Homo sapiens: one gene and its partners. The protein of the gene in region 2 interacts with the protein of the main gene of each other region in a pairwise test. Each region holds a gene or a part of one and is shown on either strand. Other genes may lie near its edges. The genes, in order: ATXN7, THY1 and HTR6.

Region 1 (3,653 bases), on a different chromosome or scaffold from region 2:
CTTTTCAAGACAGATCTTTATGGGCAGAAACACAGAAATGGAAGTAGCAGATTTTAAGAAAACTGATTCAGACTTTGAACTTGTATGACCTTATATTTATTGATTTATTTGAGTCATAAGATTTCTGGGTTTTTTTTTTTTTGAGAATATGAAAGACTAGTTAAGAAAATTTGTGTGTTTATTTGATATTTGCTTTCTGAAAATATAAAAAATTATGAGAGAGCTAGCTATATATGGTCTTTATTCTGGGTCTGTGAAATAATGTAAGGAATTTTGTACTATGCTTTTAGAGCAAGAGTTATCCTGGGGGTCTGTGACCCTCCAAGGGTTGGTTTCAAGGGATTCCTGAACTCCCTGTAGTTGTGACCAGAACTTTTTGTGTATGTGTATTTTTCTGGAAGAGGGTCTGTAGTTGTTTTAGAAAAGAGATCCAGGACTTAAAAAAATTAGAGACACATCTTTTTATTGAATAAAATGGAAGTTAGAATTCTTTTCTTTTCTTTCTTCTTTTTTCCTTTTTCTTTTGAAACAGGGTCTCACTTTGTTGCCCAGTCTGGAATGCAATTGCATGAAACTGGCTCACTGCATCCTTGACCTCCTGGGCTCAAGTGATCCTCCTGCCACAGCCTCCCAGAGTGCTGGGATTACAGTCATGAGCCATCACAGAATGACCATTCTAAAGAGAAAAAAACATTTTTGAAAAGTAGATCTGTGTGCTCGTTACTTGCCTTTTAAAGTTATCTTCAGGCTGGGCACAGTGGCTTATGCCTGTAATCCCAGCACTTTGAGAGGCCAAGGCGGGTGGATCATTTGAGGTAGGCCGAGGCGGGTGGATCATTTGAGGTCAGAAATTCAAGAGCAGCCTGGCCAACATGGTGAAACCCCATCTCTACCAAAAATACAAAAAAAATTATCTAGGCGTGGTGGTGTGGCCTGTAATCCCAGCTACTCAGGAGGCTGAGGCAGGAGAATCACTTGAACCCAGGAGGCTGAGGTTGCAGTGAGCCGAGATCACTACACTCTAGCCTGGGCAACAGAGTAAGACACTGAAATAAATAAATAAATAACAAACAAATAAATAAATAAAGTTGTCTTCAGACTTAGAGGTGTAAAAGCACTTCCATTTTATTCCCACAACAAAGCATTGCCTATCAGTTGATAAGCCAAGCTGGTCTGACGTGCTAGTCCTGCATGTACTGTGGCTGTGTTTTTAAAAAATTATATCTAAAAATTCAGACCAGATCGTTTGATGGTAGATAAGCAAAGATTTGATCTTGACACCAGCCGTTGGAGTAAATGGGTCTTTCAGCTCCACTCTCTTCTCTCCAGAAAATTTGAAATTTGACTCAAAGGGAATCATTGTAAGAAAATGTGTTTGTGCCTTGGCAGGACAGTAGAACATGATGGGAAAAACACAGTTTGAGTCAAAATAGACTTAAAATTCAAATTTGGTTTCCTTTATTCACTGTAGCTACTTACCCTGCTTGACTCTTCAGTTACTCATCTGGATATGGCTAACTAGTAGAGTTGTTGGGAGGCTAGCTAGAAGTTTCCCGTATAAAAGTCTTAGCTCCTCTTTGGCCCGCAAGAAGGACTTACAAGCCAGGTTTGGGGAACCATTAATAAACATCTGAGGAAACATGTATATTCATGGTATAGGATAATAAGTACATTATTTCCAAATTGGTGTGATGAAGATATTAACACTTAAAACATTGTTTTTTAAGAAAAAGATTTTCAAAAATGAGTTAGGATTGAGTGGTCCCCAAATATAGATATTTAGAGGAAAGTGGAAAATGATGGTTTATTTGGCAGAGGGGAGGACATGGATGCTGCTGGGCAGGAAGAAATGATAGCCACCCACCAGCATTATATTTCTCTCTGTGGGCAAGATTCCATTTAACATTTTCTCTTCACTTATAATCTGAATTAAAAAACTAAAATACTGCACATGTACTTTATAGTCCATCACCCCTAAAAGTGCTTCAGCACTCCTTTCGTTTTGAGACCTTCACAGGTAACCCAGGGACTTCATGGGTGGAAGTTACACTTATAACTTTAGTTGTCTAATTCTGCTGTCTTTAAAATGCCTTCACAGTTGGGTACCTGTGTTGATTTTTGTCAATAGGAAAGGGTCTGGCAGGACTGAATCATATTTTACTTTAAATGCTGAAGTAAGAGAGGGCATTATGAGTCAAAAGAAAGTGTGAGATACGTAAATAAAATACTGTATAATGCTTATGGCCATAAAAATAAACTTGCTTCTACTATTTCTATAGTCTTAACCTTTCCTGTCATTTATTCGTGGTGATCATTTATGCTTTCTGCCCTTGGGTTGGGAAATGGTTATGAACACAGCCTTTAGGCTTTGAATATGGCCTTGATTCTCATTTCCTGAGCTCTCTGGTTGTGTTCAACTTGGTCCAGTCTCCTTCTTTGAGTCTAGAGGAGATGACCATTAAATGGGATAATAAATGCAAAAAAGTTTTGCTTACTCCTAGGCTCCTAGTAAGTACTCAGAAAGTGGTAGCCATTTTGAAGACAGTTACATTCTCATCTTTAGAAGGAGATATCATACATCTTTTTCTTTTCTTTTCTTTTTGTTTTTTTTTGAGACAGAGGCTCATTGTTGCCAAGGCTGGAGTGCAGTGGCATGATCTTGGCTCACTGCAACTCCTGCCTCCCAGGGTTCAAGCTATTCTCGTGCCTCAGCCTCCCTAGTAGCTGGGATTACAGGCATGTGCCACTACGCCCAGCTCATTTTTGTATTTTTAGTAGAGATGGGGTTTCGCCATGCTGGCCAGGCTGATCCTGAGCTCCTGACCTCAGGTGATCCACCTGCCTCGGCCTCCCAAAGTGCTGGGATTACAGCTGTGAGCTACCGCACCCTGCTAGAGATACTATACATCCTTTTAAAGAGAATACCTTTATTCATCCTTATTCCCACTTAGACCTTCTGGAACCATCTTACTTTCAACTCAGAAAAGCCTTTTACATTTTCTTGTTATGATAGGCAGGTATCCCAACATCTTGATGACCTATTGGACTTCTCCATTGTTCTTAGCCAATGGGGTTGCATTCTCTATTGGCCTGGCAGGTTATATCAAAATCTTGGATATGTCAGGGGCCAAACCAACAAGCCTGCACAGGTTTGGAGCTGTGATCCATCAAACAACTGTGTGATTTTATAGCCTGGAACAGAGATCAGCAAATTTTCTGTAAAGGACCATATAGTAAATATTGTTTACTTTGCCAGCCATCCAGGTCTCTACACCTACTCAGCTCTGCCATGATAGCAGGAAAACACTCATAGATATAAATGAATGGGTATGACTGTGTTCCAAGAAATGTTGATGAACACTGACATTTGAATTTCATGCAATTTTTATGTGTCACGTCATATTTTATTTTTTCAACCATTTAAAAATGTGAAAGTCATTCTTAGCTCCTGTTATATACAAATCTTAGCTAGATTTGGTCCATGGGCCATAATTTGCAGAATCCTTGCCTAGAATATTAGATGCATAGATTTGTGGCATTGCCAAGCAACCACCCCCAACATGTGCACACACACGTATGTGTGTGTGTGCTCACACACTGCTGTTTTATTTAGCATACTCTGCTTTTGGTATGGCAGTTTGATCTAATGCCTC
Region 2 (2,752 bases):
GGGCAAGAGGGGGACCGCAGGGTAGCTGTGGGTTCCAACTGCTGTCAGAGTCAGAGAGGCAGCCCCAAGCCAGCCTCCCTGCTTTGCCAGGGAATTTGGGGGAGGAAGGTGACAGCTGCCCAGAGGCTGACTCATCTGATATTTAGCACTGGGTAGGATGATTGTTTCTGAGCATTTTTCTTAAAGGCCTCAGATCTAAATTATGCCACCGGCTCCCACTCTTGCTACCTCCCGTCAACTTCTCTGCCTTGCCTTCCACCCCTGTAGTTACCATACACAGAGGAGGAGGAGCTGTCCTTGTCCCAGGTTGGGAGGCTGACAACCCCTTAGCAAGATGCTGCCAGCCCAGAGCTCTCCAAGGGGAGGAACACCCCTGAGACTCAGGCCCCTCTCCTTCAGCCCTGCTTGGGCTGCAAGCGCCGTGCCAAGGAAAGGCATCTTGGTGAGAAGAGCTGCTGTGGGGGAAGGGAGATCAAATGCCAGAGAAATGTGGGGTGCCCCACCCTCAGGATAGTAAAAGAGTATGGAGGTATTTCTGGAAGGAAATGAGCGGCACTGTGTGAAGCCTCGCACCTGTGTGACACTTCCTATGGGGTCTTTGTCACACTCTAGTACTATGTCCCTGAAGAGTTTAGCAGCCACACTCTTAGAAGGGTGCTGGGAGATGGTGTTGCCCTCTGCAGCCATGTTTAGGGGAGCGGAACCTGAGGCCCACAGTGGGTGAGATTAGCTCAAGAAGCCACAGAGGCCACCAGAGGGCCACGGACTTCGGAAAGGAGAAGAGAAGAACAGGGCATCAGGCCTCACAACGCAAACCTACCCAGAGATGGGCACAGTGGCTCATGCCTGTAATCCCACCACTTTGGGAAGAGGCGGATCGCTTGAGGTCAGGAGTTCGAGACTAGCCTCGAAACCCTATCTCTACTAAAAATACAAAAATTAGCCAGGCATGGTGGCCTGCGCCTGTAATCCCAGCTACTCAGGAGGCTGAGGCAGGAGAATCACTTGAACCCGGGAGGCGGAGGTTGCAGTGAGCCAAGATTGCACCACTGCACTCCAGCCTGGGAGATAGAGTGAGACTCCATCTCAAAAAAATAAAAAATAAAATAAACCTACCCGGAATGACCATGCTGAGGACTGGGAGCCCGCAGACTTTCAGCCACAGGCCGCGACAGCCGTGGGTCCCTCCCTGGTCAAGTCAGCAGGCCTTGTGGAGGCTGTGGGGTATCTGTGGTGACTCAGGTAATTATAGAGGGCTGGCCCCCAGCCCTGGTTCCTGTACACATGCCCCAACCCCATCCCCATCCACTCCCTCGCCAGTCCTAACCTCTTTCCTGGGTCCCCCCCCTTCAGCACCTAAGTCCATACCTAGGGCCGTGGAATTCCCGCTCAAGAGCAACAGAAGCCCCTCTCTGCACCCCCATTTCTGGACTGGATTGTCCACTGAGACGCGCAATGTCTGCATCTCTGACATCTAGAGGCTTCCTCGGGAAGGGCATGGGGATCTCCGTGAGATGTGGGGACTTTCACTGGCCAACCAAGAAATCTACACAGCGTCCGGGGACCTGTGACACACATCCCTCCCGCCTCCTCAACCTGATGTCCCTCTCTGAATCTGCAGCTTTCGTGCTGTGAAGGTGTCTTTACATGTGAAACAAACAAACCCAAGTCAAGAGTAAATCATCTCATTTACTAGTGAGAAAATGTTGGAGCTGGAGTCCTTCAGAGAGTCCTGGCCAGGCAAGAGGGCCATCAGCTCTCTTCTGCTCAACAGGGGCTCTCAGCCTCAGGACACTCTCAGGCCTGGAATGTCCCCAACACACTCAAGGAGAAACATGTCCTGTGCAGACCCACAGGAGGCATCTTTGCCCGGCACAAGGAAGAGCTGGGGTCAGTGGGACCTGTAGATGTAGACACATCATATGGAGGGTGGGTAGGACCAATGTGGCAGCTTCATGGAGGCCAAGTGTGGCTCTGCACCAGGAAGGGGCTGTGATGGCTGGAGGTGCCCAGCAGTGCAGGCGGGGAGTGCCTGGCAGTGGCGTGGCCAGGTGGAGGCCACCTGTCAAGTTTGCAATAAAGCAGTTTCCTGAATTTGGTGAGAACATGGACTAGAGGACTCTAGCCTCTTCCCCCTTTAGGGTTTCACTTCAGTAAGTCTTAAAATTAGAGTGTGGTGACTCACGCCTGTAATCCCAGCACTTTGGGAGGCCAAGGCAGGTGGATCACTTGAGGTCAGGAGTTTGAGACCATCCTGGCCAACATGCAGAAACCCTGTCTCTACTAAAAAAAAAAAATAAGTAAATAAATAAAAATTAGCCAGGTGTGGTGGTGCACGGCTGTAATCCCAGCTACTTGGGAGGCTGAGGCAGGAGAATCACTTGAACCCAGGAGGCGGAGGTTGTGGGCCGAGATCATGCCACTGCACTCCAGCCTGGGTGGCAGAGTGAGATTCAGTCTCAAAAAAAAAAAAAAAGGATTAGAGCTTGGTGCAGTGGCAGCCACCTGTAATCCCAACTTCTTGAGAAGCTGAGATGGGAGGCCCCCCTTGAGCCCAGAAGTTTGAGGCCAGCCTAAGCAACACTGTGAGACCTTGTCTCAAAAAAATAATAAAAACAATAATTCTTAAAATAAGCTGACTGGGCTGAAATCATGTATTTGTACAACAAACATTAAGCATCTAAATGCACCTGGCTCTGTGCTAAGCTATAAAAGACACAAGCCCCTAACTGAAGGGGTCCACAGTCCAATA
Region 3 (3,449 bases), on a different chromosome or scaffold from region 2:
CTGCAGTGAGCTATGATTGTGCTGCAGCACTCCAGCCTGGGTGACAGAGTGAGACTCTGACTCTTTTTTTTTTTTTTTTTTGAGACGGAGTCTTGTCTTGTCACCAGGCTAGAGTGCAATGGCATGATCTCAGCTCACTGCAACCTCCACCTGCCAGGTTCAAGGGATTCTCCTGCCTCAGCCTCCTGAGTAGCTGGGATTAAGGCACTTGCCACCACGCCTAGCTAATTTTTTGTATTTTTAGTAGAGATGGGGTTTCACCATATTGGCCATACTGGTCTCCAACTCCTGACCTCAGATGATCCACCCACCTCAGCCTTCCAAAGTGCTGGGATTACAGGCATGAGCCACCATGCCCAGCCAACTCCAACTCTTAAAACACAAAATTTAAAAACAAGTATTTATGCAACTCTTGTTGCTTTTAAACTAAGCTGCTCATGTCATACATGGGAAATGGAGGCTCTGAAAGGGGAAAGGATTTTTCTGGGGTCCCAGATTGAAGGGGCAGAATCTGGACCAGAACCCAGGACACCTACACCCAGGCCTCCCCACGACACCAGCTGCTTCTCAAGCCCCGAGTGGCCCCTCAGTTGAATCCAGTCCACACCACAGCCACTGCCTTCAGCTAGAGTTTATTGAGAGTCCCCTTGGGCAGACCTGGGGGATAGGGGAAGCCCCGCAAGCACCATGGCCCCTCAGAGGCCAGCCGCCGGGGCCAGAGTTGTGTCTCATCAGCACCAAGGAGAGGGCCAGGCCAGGCATGGAGGACCCCCTGGGAGTTTGTGTTGATGGAACTTGGGGGAGGCAGGGCTGAAAAGGGACCTATGGCAGGTAAACTGGCGACCAAGAGTTCCCCAACCCCCTGCCCCCAGAAACCAAGGCCCCTGTGCCAGAGTCCACCTGCCTGCCTCGTGGGCCCCACCTCACACCAGGAACAGCTCTTTGACTCTACTCTGCTGACCCAAGTAGCTACCATTCCCATTTCTCTCACTGACCCCAGGGAAGGCCAGAGGCAGGTGGGCAAGGGGCTGGGTTTATCCCCATCAGTTGTTCCCTTCTAGGTCCAAGGACCCCCCAGGATTGAGGAAAACCAGTTCTGAGGCTGAAAAAGAAACTGCCACCTGCCCCTTTTGCCCCCAGGAAAGGCAGGGCAGCAGCTTGGGAGCTGGGAGGGTCCCTGAGAGATGGGGTCCCCACCCAGGAGCCAGAACAGGGAGTTGGGGAACCAGAGTCAGGCTTTGGGAGGCTAGGCCAGGGCTGAAGAGGGGGAGGCAAATGGAAAGAGAACAACGGGAGCAAAGAGCCCTTCCTGACACACAGCCGGAGAGGCCAGGGGGCTGGATAGCCGGGGGTCGTAACAACAGAACGTACCAATTAACTGACCGTGTACTGGGTGCTGGGCACACATTGTCTTAATTCTCAAGACAACCTGCAAGATAGGCATCATTTCTCTACCTTACACATGGGATAACCGAGGCTCGGAGAGGTTAAATAACTCGTGTCAGGCCCCAGAGCTCATAGGTGGTAGAGCAGAGGCCCACATGCATGCCTGCCTGCCTCCCAGGTGCAGCTGCTGCCACATATATACCAGGGAGGGGAGACTGACAGGTCCAAAAACCATCCAGCAAATCATTCTGAGGGTTAAAGATGATCTAAGGCAGCACATCTCAAACTGTAATGGGCACATGATTCACCTGGGATCTTGGTAACATGCAGTTCTGACTCAGCAGGTCTGGGCAGGGGCAGAGATGTGCATTTTTCACAAACTCCCAAAGGTGACGGCAATGCCGATTGTCCATGGACTACACTGTGAGTAGCAAGGGGTTCAGCCCAGCATTAATCCATGCCTGCAGGTGGGGGCATTCCCTCCCGTCCAGCCTGACAGAATGGGCAAAGGTCATGATTGTTTTCATCCTAACCTGAACCAAGAGGTCCTTCTCCCCAACATCCAGAGTCCTCCAGCCCATCCTCTGCACACACAAGTTACACTCAACAGTGGAGCATCCTTCAGAACACGATATCTGAGTCAGCTATGATCCCTGCAGGTAAGGGGCCTGGAGATGGCAGCAGGGGGTCAGCTCTGCGCACCCCTCTGGAGCTCAGAGGGCTTCTAGGAGACTTGCAGCCTCCTGGTCTTAGCCAAGAGCTGGCCCAAGGACTCAGGGTCTGGGTTCTGCTCAATCCAGCTCCCCATTGGCCAGCCCCAAGCCCGGGTCAGTTCGTGGGGATGCCAAGTGGATGCGGCCGCAGCTCGGGCTCCGCGGGGTCGATGTTGAAGAAATTGACGGCGGCAGCGGCCCTGGTGGGCAGCGGGGGGTCCTGGGTGGCCTCGCCAGGAAGCAGCAGCTGGGCCGTGAGCCGCAGGCCCGAGGAGCCGCCTGAGCCTGCGTCTGAGTCCGAATCTGAGTCCGGCGGCAGGGGCAGCGGCAGCACCTGCTGTAGGCTAAGGCCGGGCCGGGGGCCGCTGTGAGAGGTGCGCAGTGATGGCGAGGCCAGGCTGGCCTGGCGCTCCCGGGGACAGCGTGGACATGGCAGGAACCTGCCCAGCGCCCGCTTGAAGTCCCGCATGAAGAGTGGGTAGATGATGGGGTTCATGGTGCTGTTACAGTAACCCAGCCATGTGAGGACATCGAAGAGGCCTGGGGAGATGCAGTCGCACACGGCCTGGGGGGAGGGGATGCATCATGCCTGGTCCCAGGGCAGGGACCCAGGCCACCCTTCCCAGCATGTATGGAGCAGACACACACACACACGCACCACGAGAGGCAGCCTACCCTCCCCTGTCCCCATGCCTGGGCTGGGATCCAGGGCCTCTCCTGCAAGGGCCGGACTCACCTGCCCCCTGCCGTGGCATTACCTGGACTATGTTGGCCACAAAGAAGGGCAACCAGGTCACAAAGAACATGCCCAGCAGGATGCCCAGCGTCAGGCTGGCCTTCAGGGCCTTCCTGCTGTGCTTCGTGGCTAGACGCCTGCTGTCAGCAGACTCCACCCCTGGGCGTGGGGTCCTGGGCACCTGCGGAAAGGAAGGCCACATGAGTCCGTTGAGAAAGGGCCCCCGTCTGACCCTGATCCTAGCCACAGACTGAGCTTCAATCCTAATTCTAGACTGAGCCCTAGTGCCAGGATTAAACTGGGCCCTGTTCCTTGACTGAGTCCCAACTAGAGTCCTAGACTGAGCCCTGACCCTGACTCCAGGCCAAGCCCTGACATCAGCAATAAACCAAGCCCTGACCTTGGCCCCCCACTGAACCCTGACACCTACCATAAAGCCCTACATAACCAAGTTCTCAAACCAAGCCTCAACTGTGGACCTAGACTGAGCTCTGATCCTGGTCCCACACTGAGCCCTGACCCTGACCCAGAATTTCATAAGGAGCTCTAGGAAGTGCAGTGAGACAGAGCAATACCTGAAACACAAATCAGATGGTTCAGAAGAACAACCATCC

The links.
Region 1: the proteins of THY1 (region 2) and ATXN7 interact in a two-hybrid assay, tested with the Homo sapiens proteins (one study listed by BioGRID).
Region 3: the proteins of THY1 (region 2) and HTR6 interact in a two-hybrid assay, tested with the Homo sapiens proteins (one large-scale study listed by BioGRID and IntAct).

Annotation. Positions count from the first base shown.
Region 1 is NC_000003.12:63,866,832-63,870,484, forward strand, and holds part of ATXN7 (ataxin-7), read left to right. Parts: intron 1-9; exon of another isoform or gene 10-82; intron 83-3,653. UniProt on the Homo sapiens protein: Acts as a component of the SAGA (aka STAGA) transcription coactivator-HAT complex. Mediates the interaction of SAGA complex with the CRX and is involved in CRX-dependent gene activation.
Region 2 is NC_000011.10:119,414,829-119,417,580, reverse strand, and holds the end of THY1 (thy-1 membrane glycoprotein isoform 1 preproprotein), read left to right. Parts: 3' UTR 1-2,105; downstream 2,106-2,752. UniProt on the Homo sapiens protein: May play a role in cell-cell or cell-ligand interactions during synaptogenesis and other events in the brain.
Region 3 is NC_000001.11:19,678,134-19,681,582, reverse strand, and holds the end of HTR6 (5-hydroxytryptamine receptor 6), read right to left. Parts: intron 3,017-3,449; coding exon 2,858-3,016; intron 2,665-2,857; coding exon 2,215-2,664; 3' UTR 617-2,214; downstream 1-616. UniProt on the Homo sapiens protein: G-protein coupled receptor for 5-hydroxytryptamine (serotonin), a biogenic hormone that functions as a neurotransmitter, a hormone and a mitogen. Also has a high affinity for tricyclic psychotropic drugs.